Linked DNA regions of Homo sapiens. The protein of the gene in region 3 purifies or fractionates together with the protein of the main gene of each other region. This does not show direct contact. Each region holds a gene or a part of one and is shown on either strand. Other genes may lie near its edges.

Region 1 (5,317 bases), on a different chromosome or scaffold from region 3:
GATTCAAATTTAGCTAATTTGCTTTAAAAGTGCTGTGAACACAAAAATAAAAGTTCTTTGCACTGGAGTCAAAGTTAACAAATATTTTCTTACTTTTTTTTTTTTTTTTAAGCTAAAGAGTGTATTTATTCTTAGTTCTAAAATTTGTTCTACTAGAAACATACTTGTTTAAATGGTTACAAGTTCTAATTTTACATTTTAGTGTGATTATTCATTTAAAAAAAATTCTGTTTTAAGGATATACATGTATAATTTAATAATAGATTAATTATAGAAGTAACAATTTTTACCACTTTGTAAACTTGCTACCCTTTTTGATTAGAAGTAAAAATACAAATTTCCAACACAATGAATATAATTTGGTTTATTTCTCTTTGACTCTCTATAAAAAAAGAACTGGAAAAACTATTGTATTAACTGATTTCAAGTATAGAAGCCATCTTGAAGAAAAGACAGTTACTTGAGCTCTTGTATTTATCAGATGATGAAAAGTGCAGAGAAGAAACAATAAATACAAATGTTCCTAGTCACTGTGTAAATCACATTTAAATTTGATGGGGTTTTCTAAGAATAACACTAAGTTTATAAGTATTAACAATCTTTTAAATCTGAAAAATGTTTTATAAATATGGGTATTAGTTAATATTTGTTATATAAAGTGTTGAATTATTAACTATTTCTTTAAAACAGGACAGATGGCCTAATTAAATGACAAAAGAAAACAACATCTTTTTACATTTTCCCTACTGATACTGTACATATGTAATATAAAGTACACATTCTGGAAGAAAAAAAGGAGTGACAGTCAGAGCAAGTGAGGGGTGGGAAGAGGAGGAAGGGAGGGAGGAAATGAACATTTTTTTCCAGAAGCAACAAAGCAAATATGACTTGGAAATGTCTTCTTGGTAAGAGAGCATGCAACTGTTTTAACATGCTTCTGGATATCAAAGTAACAATCTTATCAGGCAACAAAAAATGTGAAGGAGGAGCATGTATGGTTAAGGTTTTTAAAGGCATGCAGAAAATGGACAAAGTAATTAATATTTCATGCAGGTTTTGGTGTGGTTACACATTCACATTAATATACATGCCATCATGTACAGCTGAACACTGTGCAACAATTTTAAATAAAAAATAAAAACCTAGCCAAATGATATTTTGTTAACAGCAACTTTTCAAATCATATTAGAGAAGCAGTGTATATCAAATAACATCAATATATTATATTGTGCAGTTTTGATCATATACAACCATATTCATACCAAACAGTTTGATTATCCTCAGAAACCAACAATGCAGCTTCTGTGTCATCAGGATAGAGGCATGCAGAAGTGACAAGATTGTTGCTATTTATAGAAAACTGTAGGTTACTGTTACTAGGGTTCTGATGATCAGAAAACTGTTCATTTTCTTTCTGTGCAGGTTTATCCAAAGAGGCAGAAGCCTGGTCAGTTATTCTGATAACTGGCCTAGGAGGTAACCCACTTATGTTACTAACTAATTCTGTATTCAGGGATAAGAATGGCTGAGATGAATGGGCCACAGTAAATGGTCCTATGCTATCTTTTGCCAACATTCCGAATGCATCACTAGGCATCCTAATAGTGGCAAAAGTTTGGTTTAGAAAATGTGACCTTCCTGTTCTTGAGTTTCTAGCCTGGGCATATAGAGGCTCAGGCATGTCTATAGCTAAATCATTTTGGGCACAAGAACCTATAGTATGTGTTGGGATGTCAAGTATATGAGAGGACCACTGGTGTAAATGGTACTCACTAGATGCTGCAGTGGTGTTGCTGTCAGCAGCAGCTGGTGGTGAATCAACTGATATAGGCAGTCTACTGTCCTTGGTCAAAAAATCATGGATGCTTGTCCTTCGTGTAGTTCCTTCGGCAGTTGAGATCACGCTGCTTGCACGAGGTAAAGTTGCATAAGGGTTACTATCTTTTGATTGTCGTGACAGAGAAGATTCTTTTACTAATTTTATTTTTCCTTGAGTGCCTGGTGTAGGTTTTCCCGCAGAACTAATGAAGTAGGTATCTTCAGTTTTTCGAGGACCAGGTCTCAAAAACTCAGGCTTAGTTGTCCGTCTATCATAGAAGTCCCCTGGGGTTTTTCCACTTACTGACCTGGCCAGACCACAGCTAACTGGTTTGTCTTTTCCCAAAAAGTCAGAAGAGACAGACAAACTTTTCATTACTTCATCTAAAAGATTCTCTTGACTTGAGGACTTTATCTGTTTAAAAAAAAATTCAAAGCAGATTAGTGAATATAGTGCCATGTTTTTACTTTCCTGATTTAGCAGACTGTGCAATATAAAATTGTGGTACCTCTTAATACTCCTTAACTTACCAAAAAAAAAAAGCTCTGAAGTTCAATTACAGAAATTTAACTTGTGGTGTTCATCTAAATTAAGGTCATCATAGATAAAACTAACCTGTACTGAGGTAAGCTTATTGCTTTCTTCCAAAAACTGTTGTAGAGTAACAACTTCACTTCCAGGGGAACCAGTTTTGATCTTGTGATGTCGACTCTCCAGTGTTTCAGATATTTTGTGCTGGAGCACTGGGCTTGATCTGGTCTGTCTTTTCAAGTACTGGATTGGACTGCTACCACTGCTGGACCAAGCCTCATGGTCATGAAGCAGGCTAAATTCTCCACTGCTGTGGCTTTGTGGCCTGCTTTGGTTATTAACTGCACCTGCTTTTGGAGTAAATGGGGTGTTGAGATTTCAATAATAGAATTGAGATTAATACTTCATGAGTAATAACATTTGTTGACTGTGTGCTAATTATATGAACAGCCAAATTTACTTTCAAGCTTTATTTAGAAATGCTTAGTAAACCATGTCAATCTTTTATCAGTCTAACAATTGTCTGCCATAGCCTGCTTCCTTATTTTGTCAAACTGACAACTATTGTAAGCTCCATAAGGGCAAAGACTTGCTTTTACTATCATACTCAGAGCCTAAACAGAGCCTCATACAAAGCATTCAATATATTTTTTGAGTAAATGAATGAATAAATAAGTGAATAATATATTTTTTAAAATTCAGGTTCAAATAGTTATAAAATGCCTTGCAGGCCAGGCGTGGTGGCTCACGCCTGTAATCCCAACACTTTGGAAGGCCGAAGCAGGCGGATCACGAGGTCAGGAGTTGGAGACCAGCGTGGCCAATATGGAGAAACCCCGTCTCTACTAAAAATACAAAAAATTTGCCAGGCGTGCTGGTGCACGCCTGTAGTCCCAGCTACTCAGGAGGCTGAGGCAGGAGAATTGCTTGATACTGGGGGGGTGGAGGTTGCAGTGAGCAGAGATCGCGCCACTGCACTCTGGCCTGAGACTCTGTCTCAACAATAAAAATAAATAAAATAAAATGCCTCACAATTTAGGATAAGAACATGATTAGACAAAATATATATATATATTTCATCTAATGTGTATTTTTATATATATTATATATAATATATATAATTTATATATAATTATATATAAATATATAATATATAATATATAAATTTATATATTATATATAAATATATATAATATATATTATATATAAATATATATTATATATAAATATACATATGTGTGTATTTTTTTTTTTTGAGATGGGGTCTCACTGTGTCACCCAGGCTGGAATGCAGTGGCACGATCTCAGCTCACTACAACCCCCGCCTCCTGGGTTCAAGTGATTCTCTTGCCTCTGCCTCCCAAGTAGCTGGGATTACAGGCATGCGCCCCCATGCCAGGCTAATTTTTGTACTTTTAGTAGAGACGGGGCTTCACCATGTTGGCCAGGTTGGTCTGTAACTCCTGACCTCAGGTGATCTGCCCACCTCGGCCTCACAAAGTGCTGGGATTACAGGTGTGAGCCACCGCACCTGGCTCATTAGGTGAATTTTATATTATTTCAGTATGTTAAGACCAAAAACTGTTCTAAATGCAGAAAATTCTATTTTAATTATTTGCTTATCTAAGAAGTCCTCATTACTACTTGAAGGCTTCTCTGTTCATCCTGCATGGATAACTTTAAACATTTAAAAAAATTTAAAGAGCATACACATAAGGAAAGTTAAATAAAGATATGAAGCAATTACTTACAACATTTCAGTAAAAGTATACAATCAAATATGTAGTGCTTTATTCTTTTTTAAATGTCTTGATCATCTTATTGTTCTTGCTGTCCACTGTTGATATGGTGCCTATATAACCTTAAAAGACTCAGTTGACATTAAGCAACTATATAAAATGAAAATTTGCTAGTTCTAGAATTAAACTCCCTCAAATCTATGGTGTTCCTTAAGAGTACGGATTTGTTTTGATCACGAACAAACTGTACATCAAAACAGAAAATGCAACTTTCCATTGTTTCCCAGTCACAGAGAGTAAAGTGGGCCACGAAAGAATTTGGCTCAAGTTATGTAACATTTTACAAAAGTAAGAGTTTCTTAAATTTTCAAATCAGAAAAAAAAAAATCCTATTTTCAGACTACATTTTTCTACTGGATGTAAAAACATTTTTAATTAAATAATTTATTTCTTTTAAGGCTAGTCAAATGAAGTAGTGGGAGTGGGAAAGGAACAAAGAAATCTGAAAAACATGATAAAAATTAAAAAAAGAAACCCACCTCAAAATTAGGTATTTCAGATCACTGTAATAATGTCATAGCATTAATTGATAAAATAAAATTACAACTGAGACAAAATAATTTTATAATCCAAAAAGGAACAAAACAAATGCATTCCTTGTAACCTGACAATTCTGGAGTACAGAGAGTAACTATGATATATTGGTCAAATAATTCAGAGGCTGGATGAGGTGCCTCACTTGAGCACAGGAGTTCGAGACAAGCCTGGGCAACATGTTAGAAACCCTGTCTCTAACAAAAATACAAAAAAACTAGCTGGGCATGGTGGCATGGGTCTCTGTAGTCCCAGTTACGTGGGAGGCTGACGTGGTAGGATCGCTTGAGTCTGGGAGGCAGAAGTTGCAGTGATTTGAGATAGTACCACTGCACTCAGCCTGGGTGACACAGCGAGAACCCGTCTCAAAAAAAAAAAAAAAAAAAACACAAAAAAACAAAAAACCCTCCAGGCCGGGCAAGGTGGCTCACACCTGTAATCCCAGCACTTTGGGAGGCCAAGGCAGGTGGATCACCTGAGGTCAGGAGTTCAAGACCAGCCTGGTTAACATGGTGAAACCCTGTCTCCACTAAAAATACAAAAAATTAGCTGGGTGTGGTGGTCGTTGGCACCTGCCGTTCCAGCTACTTGGGAGGTTGAGACAGGAGAATGGCTTGAACCTGGGAGGTGGAGG
Region 2 (5,317 bases), on a different chromosome or scaffold from region 3:
AGGTGTTGCCATGGCCAGGGGAAGTGTGCATGTGAAGCTTACTGTGATCAAGCTATTTGTTTTGCTCAGCATTGCAAAAGGTAGAAAAAAGGAACATGCTTAAAAACAGAACCTCTCCACCAAAAAGTTGTTATTTTCATTCCTTCAACTGAGATATTTGGCTGGACTCCTTTTTAAATAGGAAGAGGTGACACAAAGACTAGTTACCAATATGGTTAACACATTTACAGCAAACCTGTGAACTCCAAACTAAGGCTGAGTTAGCAACAGCCAACAAGCAAAAAACGCAGTCTGCTCAGAGATCCTTTACTCAGCTCCAGAGAGGCTTCATTACACTGGACTCCTTATCCCATCTTCCTTCTCTCTTACTCTTCTCCCCGCCATCTTCCATCTTTCTTTATAAAGCAGTGCACATAATGAAAACTGGGGGTATTTACTCACCTGTAATATGGTAGCTCACTTGGCGATTAACGTCGGATGTGTCTCTGTCCCAGGTGCTGAGGACGGCTACCACCTCGCCCGGTGGGTCGCTCTCCTTCACATTCCCTCGGTACACTTCCTGCGCGAAGACTGGTGCATTGTCATTTATATCTGTCACTCTGACAGAGACCAAGGCCGTGGAGGAAAGAGAGAATGCCTCTCCAAGGTCAGAGGCCACCACAGAGAAGGTGAATGTGGGGTCTGTCTCGTGATCTAGGTCCTTCAAGGTACTGATCCAGCCCGTGTTGCTGTCAATATTGAATGCTTCCATTACCTTTTCGGGCTGGGAATCCGAGTGGAGGGAGTAAGTGACTTGTCCATTGGCTCCCCAGTCCATATCAATAGCTCTCACTTGTGTGAGTTTGGTGCCAACAGGCATCCCTTCCATTATAATGGTGTCATAGCTTGAAGTTTCAAAGACTGGCTTGTTGTCATTCAAATCCAATACCTTGATATCTACATCCACAGTAAACACAATGTCTACTTTGTCCAGGGGTATAGTGGCTGCTACTTTAAAGTGGAAAGCTGGGCTGGTTTCACGGTCAAGGCGTTTGTCAAGCTTAATAGTGCCTGTTTCCTGTTCTATGACGAATATGCCCCCTTTGTTATTTTCTGGCCGTTCCCCATTAACTGTGCTGAACCAGACATTCTGACTGGGCAAAATCCTCAGGGTGTCCACTGTACTCCCAATGGCTGTATCTTCTGCAATGGTAAAGGAATACTGAGACTGGGTGAATGATGGCAAGAACGTTTCAGGGGGCAAGACGTGGATATAGACAGGAATGAGGGAGTGCTTTACTGGGATGCCCCCATCTACTGCTTTGACAAAGAACGAAAGCACTGTATTTTTCAGCTGGTTAAAATTACCCTTTGTGACCATCCAGCCATTGTCAGGATCGATTTCCAGGAGGTCGGCCACTGAAACAGAGGCCTCGCTATAGAGGGAATAAGTAATCCTTGAATTTGCTCCATCATCGGGATCTATGGCTTGAACTTGAGTGACCAAGTGGCCCCTTCCAACATCTGCCCTGACACTGGCTCTATATTCCACTGTCATGAACTGGGGAGCATTGTCATTTTCATCCACAACAATCACTCTCACAGTGCAGAAAGTTGTTCTCCCTCCACCATCAAGGGCCCTCACAAAAATACTAACATCCCCTTCTAGAGGGTTTTCCCGGTCTAGCCTTTCTGTGGTGATGACCTGCCCATTGCTGTCTATGAGGAATCGATCCTTGGCAAAGTCATTGATGATGGCATAGCTGATCTGCCCATAAGTCCCTGGATCACCATCTGTGGCTCGAACATGAATTACCTTTGTTCCTGCAGCCACGTTCTCTCTCACCTCAGCTACGTATGTGCTTTGTGAAAAGGCAGGGCTGTACAAGTTAGCCCCAAGTACCCTAATATGCACCTGTGCAGTGCTGGTGAACAACCCATCAGAGACAGACACATTGAGACTGTACAGAGGCTCCATCCGCTGCTTCCGATGGTTGGACAATGTGATAACTCCACTCTTGCTGTCCATCAGAAAGCTCGTCCGGTCATTCCCAGATAAAATGCTATATTCCAACCGGTCAAAATCAGAGCTGTCTGCATCAGAGGCTTGTACACAGGTTACAAAATGGCCCCGGGGGGCTAATTCACTCACATATGACTCATAAATGAGCTGATTAAAAACTGGAGGGTTGTCATTTACATCAGAGATGTAGATATGAACGAGAACCTCACTGCTCAGTGATGGGAAGCCACTATCTATTGATCTGACTTTCAAAGTGCAGTGTTGTACTAACTCATGGTCCAGCATTCGTGCTGTCAGGATTAAGCCACTTGAGCTATCTATGTGAAAATAATCTGTGCTATTGTAGGTATCCTGGACAATCTGATAATGTACCATTTTATTGTTTTCTGAGTCTGCATCAATAGAGACAACTTGTAAAACAGGTGTCCCAATAAGAGATGCTTCTGATAGTGTTGTATTGTATGTAGGCTGATCGAAAATAGGGGGGTTGTCATTTACATCATTAACTAGCAAGTCAACAGTGACTTCAGCCCTAGCACCAGTAAGGGCGTCGCTGGCTCTTATTGTCAGCTTGTAAGCAGATGTAACTTCATAATCCAAAGGGCTAACAACTTTCAGGACCCCAGTGTCAAAGTCAATGTTAAACTGTTTAAAAGGGTCCCCATCGATAATGATATATATGATGCCTTGGCCTTCTGGACTGGTGGCATTGATGCTTAGGATGGGTGTGTTCATTCTGATGTCTTCATTGACAGATGCTGTATAAAAGGGCTTATCAAACACAGGCATTGCTTTGTTGACAATAGTGATGGGAAGCTCCACAGATGTAGACAAAGAAGGTTTTCCGCCATCCTTGGCTAGGATGGTGACTCCATACTCAATGTTGGACAAGTCAGAGTTGAATGCTTCCTTTAAAATAACATTCCCTGAATTAGGGTTAATTTCAAAGTGGCCATAGTCATCCTGCAGGACATAGGTCACTTCTCCATTTGGACCTTTATCTTTGTCAATGGCTGTCACCTGATAAATCAGAGTCCCGGGTTCCGCATCCACTTGAACAGCAGCATAGTATGGGAGGCCCACAAAGACTGGAGAATTGTCATTTATGTCTTCAATGTTAACCCTGACCACCACTCTGGCCACACGCAGATGGTCCAGCTCACGGCTGGCTTCTACCACCAGCTCATATAACTCTTGTTCTTCACGGTCAAAGGGGACTCCAGTCGTCTGAATGACCCCTGAGGTAGATTTTATCTTGAACTTATTTCCTGGGTTTAAGATGCTGTATTTTAAGGGCTCATTAAGGCGATTTCCAACTGCATTGACAATAGCAACTTTGGTTATGTTAGTGTTGTTCTCTGAGATTGAGGTGGAATAGAAGCTTTGTGTAAAGTGGAGGCCGCTGTCCATGGCTTCTTTAACCATGATGGTGACCATGGAGGTACTGTAGAACTTTCCATCAGACACCTTAACTATCAGCATGTAGTGATCCTTGGAGAGGTTGTTGTTTTTTATGGTAAGTACTCCACTGTTTGAGTCAATTAAAAAATGATCCAAACTGCCTTCCATTAGGCTGTATGTCAGTTCAGGGGGTACCTCAGAGTCAGGATCTGTGGCACTAACTTTCAGAACCTCCACTCCAACATAGGTAGGTAGAAGTAAGATAGTCTCAAACACAGCCTGAGTAAAAACAGGTGGGTTATCATTCACATCTGTCACCTCAATGTTGACTTCAACGGGACTCTCTGCAGTCAGTTGGGGGCTACCACTGTCTCTCACATGCACATGAAAATGGAAATGGGCAATGGTTTCATGGTCCAGGTTGGCAATTGTTCTGATTGCACCTGTACTGGAGTCCACCGTGAAAAACTTTTTTGCTGTTGACTCCACAATCTGATACACAAGCAGAGCATTCCGGTTGCTGTCAGCATCTGTGGCTCGAATCACCAGTGGGCTGTTATCCAAGCTCCTGACAATGCTATTAATTGGGGCAGCCTCACTTAGGCTGCCTGAGTATTGAGAAAAGAGAAAAACTGGGGCATTATCATTTTCATCAACAATCTGAATATTGACTGTAGCATTGGAAGCCATTCCTGCCATATTGGTGGCCTGAATGATGAGTTGATAAGAGGATGTGCGCTCATAATCCAGGGCCTTCTGAGTGGTGATGACTCCAGAATATGGATTTATGGTAAAGATCCCATTAATGTCTCCATCTTTGACTTCATAAATGAGGGTAGATTGACTGATGGCAGAGATTAGAATGACTGATGTTCCAATGTCAACATTTTCATTTACTTCTGCTTGGTAGTCTTTGTGAATGAACTTGGGGTGAGAATTGTCAGACATGGTGACGGAAATGCGCACAATTGCAGTAGCAGACATTGGCGGGGATCCCTGATCTGTGACTTTGATGGATAGGACAAACTGACCCATCGTCGTCATGTCTGGTTCTTTGCAAATGGTGATGATGCCTAGGACCGGTTCGATCTTAAACATGTTCCCAGTGTTCCCTAAAATACAGAAATCAATGGTGAAATGAGTTACATGTGGGTCACTGAAATCTTTTTGATTAACTCTTTATCTATAGGTACCTTACTGCAATGTGGCAAGTAGAAAGCAATTATAGTACTCATCTGTGTCATTCTGAAATAAAATGAGAGGCTTCTCTTTCAGGGGTACTGAAAAGGAACCAAAATGAGTTTCCCAGTATTATAGTAAATTTCAGATCAGTAACTTCTAGATCCAGGTTAAAAACACAATGACAATGACACAGTCTTATGTGCATTCAAGTTGGGAAATAAGAGAGCCCGAAGGAGAGATCTTTCTGCTAAGAATGTATAGGACTTCCTTATTTCCAGCCTTGTGAGAAGACAGATAGATTGGGAAGCCCACATATGAATGCCACTGGTTTAGGTAGCAGTGTCATATTTTCTGTTCTAGGTTTAAAGAAAGAGGGTTGTGGGAATAGTTTCAGAGCATTATAAAGTAGTCAGTTGTTTTCTGATTATCCCAAAAGCAAACTTCGCTACATGGAATTGGTATTATTTCACCCTATCAAAAATGACTTTATCCAAAACACTACTTTGGTGAAGGGGTTTGTTCAGTCAGGTGTGGAGAATTCTTGGCAAGTCATTATTTGCCTTGTAAGTGTGATGAATTTTCCTGACTTCTCTTCTATTCTCCACTCATGCTCTACCCCTCTCTCATGCTTCTGAACACACACATGCACACATCTAGACATAAAAGTAAACATAAAAAGTTATAGGGCAGTTGCTCAATCTGTAACCATTCTATTCACCAAGCATTTGAGGT
Region 3 (5,317 bases):
TAAAGAGGAAGCAGAGCATAACAACTTGGAAAATTTGTAGCCTGAAGATGCAATGGAAAAGAAAAACCCATTTTCTGGGGAGAAATTCAAGCCTGCTACAGAAATTTGCAGAAGTAACAAGAAGCCAAATGTTAATCACCAAGACAATGGGGAAAATGTCTTCAGGGCATGTCAGAGACTTCACAGCAACCCCTCCCATCACAGGCTGAGGCCTACGAGAGAAAAAATGGTTTTCTGGGCCTGTCCAGGCCCCCACTGCTCTGTGCAGCCTTGGGACATGATGCCCTCCATTCCAGCTGCTTCACCTCCAGCCATGGCTAAAAGGGACCAAGGTACAGCTCAGGCCATAGCTTCAGAGGGTGCAAGCCCTATTCCTTGGCAGCTTCCATATGGTGTTGGTCCTGCAGGTGTGCAGAAGACAAGAACTGAGGTTTGGAAACCTCTGCCTAGATTTCAGAGGATGTACGGAAATGCCTGGATGTCCAGGCAGAAGTTTGCTACAGGGGCGGAGCCCTCATAGAGAACCTCTGCTAAGAGAGATGTGTAAGGGAAATTTGGGTTCGGAGCCCACACAGTCTTCACTGGGGCACTGCCTAGTGGAGCTGTGAGAAGAGGGCCACCATCCTCCAGACCTAAGAATGGTAGATCCACCAAAAGCTTGCACTGTGAGCCCAGAAAAGCCACAGACACTCAATGCCAGCCCATGAAACCAGCCATAAGGGAGGCTGTACCCTGCAAAGCCACAAGGGCAGAGCTGCCCAAGGCTGTAGGAGCCCACCTCTTGCACCAGCATGACCTGGATGTGAGACATGGAGTCAAAGGAGATTATTTTGGAGCTTTAATATTTAATTATTGCTTCAGTGGATTTCAGACTTGCAAGGGGCCTGTAGCCCCTTTGTTTTGGCCAATTTCTCCCATTTGAAATGGGTGTATTTACCCAATGCTTGTACGTCTATTGTACCTAGGAGATAACTAACTTGCTTTGGATTTTACAGGCTCATAGGTGAAAGGGACTTGCTTTGTCACATATGAGACTTTGGACTTGGACTTTTGGTCTAATGCTGGAATGAGCTAAGACTTTGGGGGACTGTTGGAAAAGCATGATTGCATTTTGAAATGTGAGGACGTGAGATTTGGGAGGGCTTAAGAGCAGAATGATATGGTTTGGCTGTATCCCCACCCAAATCTCATCTTGAATTATAGTTCCCATAATCCCCATGTGTGGTGGGAGGAACCCGGAGGGAGGTAATTGAATCATGGGGGCAGTTTCCCCCATGCTGTTCTCATGATAGTAAGTTCTCAAGAGATCTGATGGCTTTATAAAGGGCTTCCTCCTTCACTCGGCTCCCATTCTTCTCCTTCCTGCCATCATGTGTAGAAAGACATGTTTGCTTCCCCTTCTGCCATGATTGTAAGTTTCCTGAGGCCTCCCCAGTCATGTGGAACTGTGAGTCAATTAAACTTCTTTCCTTTATTAATTACCCAGTCTCAGATAGTTCTTTATAGCAGCGTAAGAATGGACTAATACAGAAGGGAAATATCGCAGTAATCAGTAATCAGCAAAAATGAAAAGGCTGAAAAGCCACAGGCAGTGCTGAAGGAAAAATACCTGGGGAAAAAATGGGAAAGACCTGGCAGACAATATTGTGTATGTCCTGTTCACAGCTGTATCTGTATCCGGACTAGTTCTTGACCCACGTGATTATTAAATAAATGTTTACGGAATGAACAGCTAACAAAAGCAGAGAAACAAATACAGACAAAGGTTGAAAATGTGTATTTAGGAAAGGGGATGAGAAATAAAATCAGTATTTTTGAAAGATGGGAAAAGAGATGAGCTAGAAGCAAGCAGGGATGACATGCATGTTTTCTAGAGCTTATGTAAAAATATTTTTAAAAGATGGGGCAATCTATAATTGGAAGAAGAAACACGCAAAGCTACCCTTCATTAAATTAACTACTGGGTAAAAAATTAGAAATAGTAGATAGAATTTCAGATATAAAGATGAAAAAGTTATGGAGATCTGTTTCACAACAATGTAAACATCCTTCACAGCAATGGAGTGAATGCCTAAAAATGATTAAGATGGTGTATTAGGTCCGTTTGCATGCTGCTGATAAAGACAGACCCAAGATTGGGCAATTTACAAAAGAAAGAGGTTTAACGGACTTACAGTTCCACGTGGCTGAGGAAGCCTCACAATCACGGCAGAAGGCAAGGAGGGGCAAGTTACATCTTACATGGACGGCAGCAGGCAAAGAGAGAGAGCTTGTGCAGAGAAACTCCCATTTTTAAAGCAATCAGATCTCATGAGACTTATCCACTATCACGAGAACAGCATGGGAAAGACGCCCTCATGATGCAATTATCTCCCACTGGGTTCCTCCCACGACACATGGGAATTGTGGGAGTTACAATTCAACATGAGATTTGGGTGGGGACACAGCCAAACTATATCAGATAGTAAACTGTATGTGTTTTTTACTACAATGAATTTTTTTTTTAATTAGAGAGAAGGGCTTGGAATCAAAGAGAACGCTGATATATATATATATATATTTTAAAGCTCTTTAAGAGACACTTCACAAAGAATATAAAATAATGAAGGATGACTAAAAAGAAATAAATTAAGATCACACAGGACTGAATGTCACAAAGAAAACTGCAATAGGCATCTTTGAATTATGAAAGAAAAGCATTCCAGAAGGAAAACAAAGTAATAAGACTCATAAGTTTCAGGGGCAAGAAAAACTGTAAGAGAGCTAATGATCTGAATTTTTTTTTTTTTTTTTCCCCAGAAACAGTTTCACGCTTGTCGCCCAGGCTGGAGTGCAATGGTGTGATCTTGGCTCACTGCAACCTCTGTCTCCCGGGTTCAAGTGCTTCTCGTGCCTCAACCTCCTGAGTAGCTGGGATTACAGGCATGCACTACCATGCCTGACTAATTTTTGTACTTTTAGTACAGATGGGGTTTTACCATGTTGGCCAGGCTGGTCTGGAACTCCTGACCTCAGGTGATCCACCTGCCTCAACCTCCCAAAGTGCTGGGATTACAGGCGTGAGCCACCTTGCCCAGCCTAATGATCCAAATTTTATCTCCAAAGTAAAATTTCTCATACAAGGAAATCATGAAGGAGGAAAAACATTTAATTTTAACTTAAAGGAAACAGAGCCTTCATAGCAACTAAACCACTATACAATACGCTGGTAATGAAATAATATTTATGACATATCATCTGTGAAACAGATGTGACAAAATGGAAACAAACGTATTGAGTATGTTATCAGAAGCTTTTAAAATGCTGTTTTCATCACGTGACTTTCTATAACAGGAATAAGAAAAACCAGATAGTGTGCATGTTCTAAATAATATGTTAATTTCTGTACTATTCCTGTAAGAATGAAACTGATCTTGATGAGGAAAGATAGACATCTGAACATTGGTCCTGTTACCTCTTTGGGTCCAGTTGTTCCAGAAAGGAAGCTGAGCTCTGGCAGTGTGCGCGTAGAATACCCTCATGTCTTGAGGTGCAAGCAGGTCAACAAAGTGAGAAGACGCCAGGACATCTTTCTTACGATTCAGGATCAAAGCAGCCTGTTCAGAAATGTGCACTAACCTTCCAGACAGAAATGAAAATACTGCCACAAAGGTATCCTATGAAAAACATTTAAAATAAATGCAAATATTGAGATACTCACTAGCAATATTCCCTGAAAGGTAAATTTCTTCTGGATCTCTAACATGACCAGTATCTTAAAATACACAGGCACAACCTACAAATGCAACAAAACTCCTCAAATAATTTTCTCCAACATGCTTCTTAAATCTTCTCCTAAGACCTGCACTTCACCTACTGAAGGTTCAATTTCTATGCCAAAAAATATACTAGCTTATTCTATGCAGACTAAAATACGTATGGCACATAACTTCTCTGCAAACTGTGCCATACACCTGGGTGGACGGTGTTCTCGTCATCAACGCAGATTCTATGCTTTAAGACACACTGAAGATTCACCTTCTTCAAGAAGCTGTCCTTGACAAACCTCATTACATAAGCATCACTGCTCTAATTTTTTCCATTACACATAAATGAAACTTATTTATAATCAGCAGTTTGTGTTTGCTAGCATTGGCATACTTTCCTCTCTAGCTTTATTTTAAATATCTTAAAAGACAAATATTTTCTTAAGCTATTTTTAAAAATCTCCATAGCACCTCCTACAGTACTATGTACACACCAGTCCATAAAATAAGCACTGTTATAATACTAGGGATTGCGCACGTTCCACTATTACAAAATCTTTAAGTAACAATTATGTTACTTAAAATAAGTAATCTCCACCGTATCAACCAAACATGAAGATTACTCTGTCAAACAAGAAGAGAGATTAAAAAAGATATACTAAAGGTCTCTTCCAAAATTTTAGGAAAAATGACAGCATCTCAACTCACCTGTTCTATAACATCCAGTTGTTACAACTTGAAGTAGTAGGTATTGGAACTAAGAATGATATAAATAGAAATTAACAATTCGGAGATTAGAATAAGGTGCAGGAAATTACTCTGCAGTGTAATTTTTGTTTTCTCTTAATTCAAGAGAGCTTGGGAATGCTAAGGAGCTAGAAGCACCTCATAACCAAAGTCACTGAGCTGCACAGCACACAGAACGGGCTGCTTCTGCTTTTAGATGTTTTCTCTGGCAAGGGCGGAGAAGCTACACCATGCCTCTTTAGCAGTTCCTCCTTTGCTTCTCTCAAATTGTGGTTGCTGAAACGTTGTTATCCTTCTTAAAAGCCTACATCTAGAGCAGGCCCTTAGGAAAAGTCACCCAGGTTGATATGGCAAAATGCATGAATTCTTACTGTGTTTTTGGAAGTGTGTTCTGAAGCGATAGTGGCCAGCTCCTCAAGACTGTACATGCTCACATCTGCCTGAGGTGCTCCATTCTGACTGAGAATCTGGAAAAACTCACTGTTTGCTAAGAAACACAGGGAGATAAACAGGTAGTCCAGTGACAACAGTATCTTTAGGAAACCATTTCATCACTATCAAGCTGGATTATTTTTTTCGGATGAGAACACCTCAGTGCATTTTTCTCAAAAACAGATCATTTTCTGCTTTTACCTAAAATACTGATAGTTGTGCAAACTTAAGATTTGATTTTATGAATTCTGCATGTTCTGGATCACAGGAAGCAAGATACATTTAAGGTACTAACTAAAAATTTCAGATGCATACACAATTTTTTTGCGGGGGGAGCAGAAACAGTACTCTGTCATTCAGGAACATATCATATATGAAGCACTGAGGTTTGT
Region 4 (4,452 bases), on a different chromosome or scaffold from region 3:
AAAATGTTGCCAGGGTTGGCTTCTTTTCTTCTGAGGCTCCTCTCTGTGGCTTATAAACAGCCATCTTCTCCCTATGTCTTCACATGGTCTTCCCTCTGTACTGTCTGGGTCTAAATTTCCTCTTCCTTTAAGGACACCAGTCATATTGGATTAGGGCCCACACTAATGACCTCATTTAACTTAATTACCTCTTTAAAGACCCTGTCTCCAAATACAGTCACCTTCTGGGGTACTGGGGGTTAGGACTTCAACATAAGAATTTTGTGGGGGACAGAATTCAGCCACAGCACAAGTGTATAGTACCTGACCCACGGCAGGCTTAGTAAGCCTACTTATTGTCTACCTCACCCACATTTAAACTGCACAAACTTTTAATGGGACGCTGTGTGTCTCTGTAGACTCCCAGACACACTAAACCTATTTAAACAGACAACTCAGCATTGTGACAGGCGCACTCTGTCCTTCCTTTATTATCAGGGATGAAGCTGTTTCTTCTCTTTGCCCCAGATTCCGGATGTCATAAATCTTTAAAATGAGTCATCCTTGTGTCTCCTCTCTCCCTCCTGCCCCCACAATCTTCCAGCACTGTGCCAGGGTGCTTTCATCTATATGTGGAAATGTGCTCACCTGCTGATTGTAAACTCAGTCATTGCCTTACTCTTCAAAATTACTGGTCCCAGCGGGCTTCTCTTCCAGCCATTTTTTCCTGATTCTCCATCTCTGGCAGCAGCTGCTGTGCCTTGATTCAGAAGCTGCCCTTGTCATATCTGAGCAAGTATCCCCCAGGGCTTCACGTGACTCTCACATAGCCTTGTCCTCCTCCTCCTCTGCTGTCCGCAGCCCTGGGTGGAGGGCCTGCAGTGGGGAGCTTGTCCTGCATCAGCACCTCAGAGGGGCAGTATTCCCTCATCCCAGTGGCATCCCAGCAACAACCTGTCCCCAGGTACCGTGGCCCTTTCAGCTCACTCTTTCAGCTCTTCTCAGGTCCCGCTCTGAATGTCCCCAGAGAAGCAGCCAGAGGAGCTTGTGTCCCTGGGCAACTGAGCAGCCTCCTGAATGCTCCTTTTGCACTTGTTTTTCTCTTCCAGCTGCAGAGCCCTTGCTCCGTGAGCAAAGCCTGGGTGCCCAAGCAGCCACCGCAGCAGCAGAGTACAACCTGCAGAGAAGCTGATCACCGGGCAGAGATAGAGCGAGCATGTGTGTGTGTGTGCGCGTGTGCAGAGGAGGGAGTGGTGTGCCTGTTTGTGTGTGCATGCATCTGTTGACACTCATGATTCTGAATGTTGCCTGGGCTGGGGGAGTACCTGTAGCACGCCAGTGCTGTTTCCCGGCCTCCAGACACAAGGCTCGAGGTTATGGCAGTGACTTTCAGCTGAGACCTGTTCCTGCAAGCCAGCTGCCTTGTCTGAACAGAACGTAGTGGTAGGACCCTAGCTGGGATTCTGGCATCTGCCTCCCTAGACCTCCTTCCCTCCCTCCTCACGTCAGGCTGTGGAGCAGGAGCACAGCAGTTCTGGCTGTTGTCCAAAGCATGGGATTCTGGAGGCAGCCAGAGCCCTGCTGAGTTCCTGCTTTCTGACCTGGAGGCTGAGCAGGCCGGAGTGGATGGATGCTGTCCAGACGTAGCCACCTGGCCTCTGTTTCTTATTTTAAAATTCTCTGCTACTGGGCTCAGTCCCAGGCCCTTCCTTGGGCTTCTGGGACTGAGCATGAGGCCATAGACAGATCTAAAAAGTTTCCACCACCCTACAGAAGTACACACAGATACCTGACTGGTGTGGGGTATGCCTGGTACTGTAATAGGAGCCTAAGACAGCACACCTACCTTTTCAGGATTTAGAACCTAAAATTAGAAAGAGAATCCCAGCTGTCATTGTTCCTTCCCCAGAAGCTAAGAGCCAGCCTCAGAGCCTACCCAGGAGCTGTGAAGGGGCAAGGGTCAAACTGACTCACTCTACCAGGAGGAGACCAGGTTGCAGTGGCGTAAGGCCCCCTGGTTTCTCTGGCCACACTCCAAGGCACCACAGTGCTGCCAGTGAGGACAGCTGACACCCAGCCAGGGAAACCATTCTAGTCTTTATTCTGTTGGCTTCCAGGGCCTGTCCTGGACTTGTCAGCATCCAGACTGCCATGTCAGCTATCCCAGTAGCTGAGCTCCAAGGACTCAGGCAGAGGGACTCAGGGATGGGGACTGCCAGGGGCAGTTGGCAAAAGTCCAAGTAGAGATTACACCCAGAACACCATTCCTTCCAGGAGCAGTAGGTGGGAGGTTTGACCCAGAGAAGCCAATCCTTGCATTCCAGGAGTGGCCTGTGCCTCCCACCTCTTCCTTCCCACTGCCAAAGGCCTGTGTTGAGAAAGATGTCATGCAAAAGGACGACGGTGGCCAACTAAAGCAAGTCTTCCTTCCACCCTGTGGCCTGCACTTGAGCCACAAAGTGTGTGTGTGTGTGTGCGTGTGTGGTACGTGTGTGTGTGTGTGGCTATGAGGCTGATTCCTGTTTGGATTTTTGTCCTCACGTGTATCATTAAGCTGGCCTTTGGGCCTTTTCCTTTCTACCTCCCCTGTGACCTTTCCTAGCCTCAGATCTGTTAATTCTTTTGGCCCCAGCCCTGTCCCTCACTGTCCTCTGTCCTTGGACCAGAACCCTGGGGTCAGACCCATCTCCTGTAGCTGTCCATCACACTGACAGGCTTCTTCCTGAGATATCCTCAGGTTTTCTCAGCCAGAGAGCTGCCTTTAGAGTCCAACTGTTGTACGTATGTCACCTTCACTAGAAATGTCCCATCATCGTGGGAGGGGAGCAGGGCACAGGGGATGGTGTGCATTCAGAGCATTGGGTTGGGGGCTTCCCTGTTCCCTCAGCCCCAGTCGAGAGGAAAGAGAATCGGGCCACTGCCAGAAAGAGAGTCAAGCAAACCTGGAAGGGCAAATCTGAGAGTGGGAAGGCCAAAGGCCGAGGCCCAGATTTAGTATTCACTAGCAGCGCCTTCGGGTAGCAGGATGATTCCTTTTCCTGCCTGTCTGCTGCTGGCTCTCTTCCCTAAGGTACAGGTTGGCAGGACCACCTCCGCCTACTTCTCCACCATCCCTAGCATGTCAGCCCGTTCCCAGATCAACCTGCCAGTGGAGTCAGGCAGTGCACTCCTGGAGCCAAGAGGGAAGGGCAGGGTAGAGAGGGTATGTCCAGTAGCCTGGAGCTCCATGGTGGCTTCATGCCTCCCTTCTCCCAGCTCAGGTGGCCCTGAGGGCTCCCTCGGAACAGTGCCTCAAATCCTGACCCAAGGGCCAGCATGGGGAAGAGATGGTTGCAGGCAAAATGCACTTTATAGAGATTTTCTATTGCTGGGAAGGTGTGTTTCTCCCACAATTTGTTTGTGAATATTCACTTGTTTTATAAATGTCTGACCTGTCTTGAGTAAGTTTGTGCTGTCGTCAATCTTGTGGGAGGCCTGGGAACCAGGGTTTTGGTAAGCCTGAGCCTGAATGAAGCTGTCGGCCACCCCATCTTGGTTCTGTGGGAGTCAGGAGCCTCCTATTCCTCCTTAGGAAGGGGGAGCAGCCAGAGCAGACTGGAGCAGCTTGGTCAAGAGTTGGTCCAGAGCTTGGTCAAGAGTTGGGGGTCAATTGGCCAAAATAGTACAGAGCACTCTGGCCCAGAGTGAGGGTCCTAAGTGCCATCCTGCAGTGCCACCCAGCCTTGCAGCCCACTTAAACCCCCTCCCAGGCTGGGGGTCAGTCAGTGCAGGGCCTGCTCCACGCCCTCAATCCATCCTTTAATTCAATGCAGCCACTTAAGCTGCAGCCTGTGGTGAGGAGGGGATGCAGGCTCTCTGGCTGTGACTAGGTGGTTGAGATCTGCCCACAGCCAAGCCTAGGGCGCCTGGATGCTGGCTTTGTCTCCTGGCCAGAGAATGGCCCCTCTCTGTGCAGTGTGCCCTGCTTCCATGCTAGGGGATGCTAGCCTTGGACTGAAAGCTTTATTAGCTCACACCCCAACTTTCTGGGAAGGGGCCCAGGCAAGGCCCAAGAATATCACAGTCTGGCCTGCACAGAGTGAAGAAGGAGAAAAGGGGAGGAACCTGCCTTGGGAACTTGTCTCATTCTTGGCTCTGCTCTGAAGCTCCTGCTGGCCTCCCTCATACCAAGACCTGGGCCTGCCTTTCCTTCTTGCCCTTCTGGCTTCTCTCTAATAATGGCTTTGGGTTGGTCTTTGGAGCTAAGATAACTTTGCTCTTGAGCAAAAGGTTCTGGAAGAGGGAGTTGTCCTTTACATCCACCCCTGACCTGCTAAGGATGTTCCCTAGCTGAGGCAGGTCTACATTCTAAGGAACGATTAGTAGCCATGATGGCAAGACTGCTTTCCTGAGAGGAAAAGCCAGGCACCATGGCAGCAGATGATTACCGTGAGGGCCCAGTGAAAGGGGCCTGATCACGAAAGCTGAGAAAGT

The links.
Region 1: the proteins of PER3 (region 3) and CCDC88A purify together in Homo sapiens (affinity purification with mass spectrometry; one large-scale study listed by BioGRID and IntAct). This does not show direct contact.
Region 2: the proteins of PER3 (region 3) and FAT3 purify together in Homo sapiens (affinity purification with mass spectrometry; one large-scale study listed by BioGRID and IntAct). This does not show direct contact.
Region 4: the proteins of PER3 (region 3) and CRY2 purify together in Homo sapiens (affinity purification with mass spectrometry; one large-scale study listed by BioGRID and IntAct). This does not show direct contact.

The regions. Positions count from the first base shown.
Region 1 is NC_000002.12:55,293,824-55,299,140, forward strand, and holds part of CCDC88A (girdin), read right to left. Parts: intron 2,701-5,317; coding exon 2,435-2,700; intron 2,234-2,434; coding exon 1,774-2,233; intron 1-1,773. UniProt on the Homo sapiens protein: Bifunctional modulator of guanine nucleotide-binding proteins (G proteins). Acts as a non-receptor guanine nucleotide exchange factor which binds to and activates guanine nucleotide-binding protein G(i) alpha subunits.
Region 2 is NC_000011.10:92,797,034-92,802,350, reverse strand, and holds part of FAT3 (protocadherin Fat 3 isoform 1 precursor), read right to left. Parts: intron 4,516-5,317; coding exon 442-4,515; intron 1-441.
Region 3 is NC_000001.11:7,786,384-7,791,700, reverse strand, and holds part of PER3 (period circadian protein homolog 3), read right to left. Parts: intron 4,981-5,317; coding exon 4,865-4,980; intron 4,504-4,864; exon of another isoform or gene 4,455-4,503; intron 3,657-4,454; coding exon 3,455-3,656; intron 1-3,454. UniProt on the Homo sapiens protein: Originally described as a core component of the circadian clock.
Region 4 is NC_000011.10:45,879,826-45,884,277, forward strand, and holds the end of CRY2 (cryptochrome-2), read left to right. Parts: intron 1-1,088; 3' UTR 1,089-3,419; downstream 3,420-4,452. UniProt on the Homo sapiens protein: Transcriptional repressor which forms a core component of the circadian clock.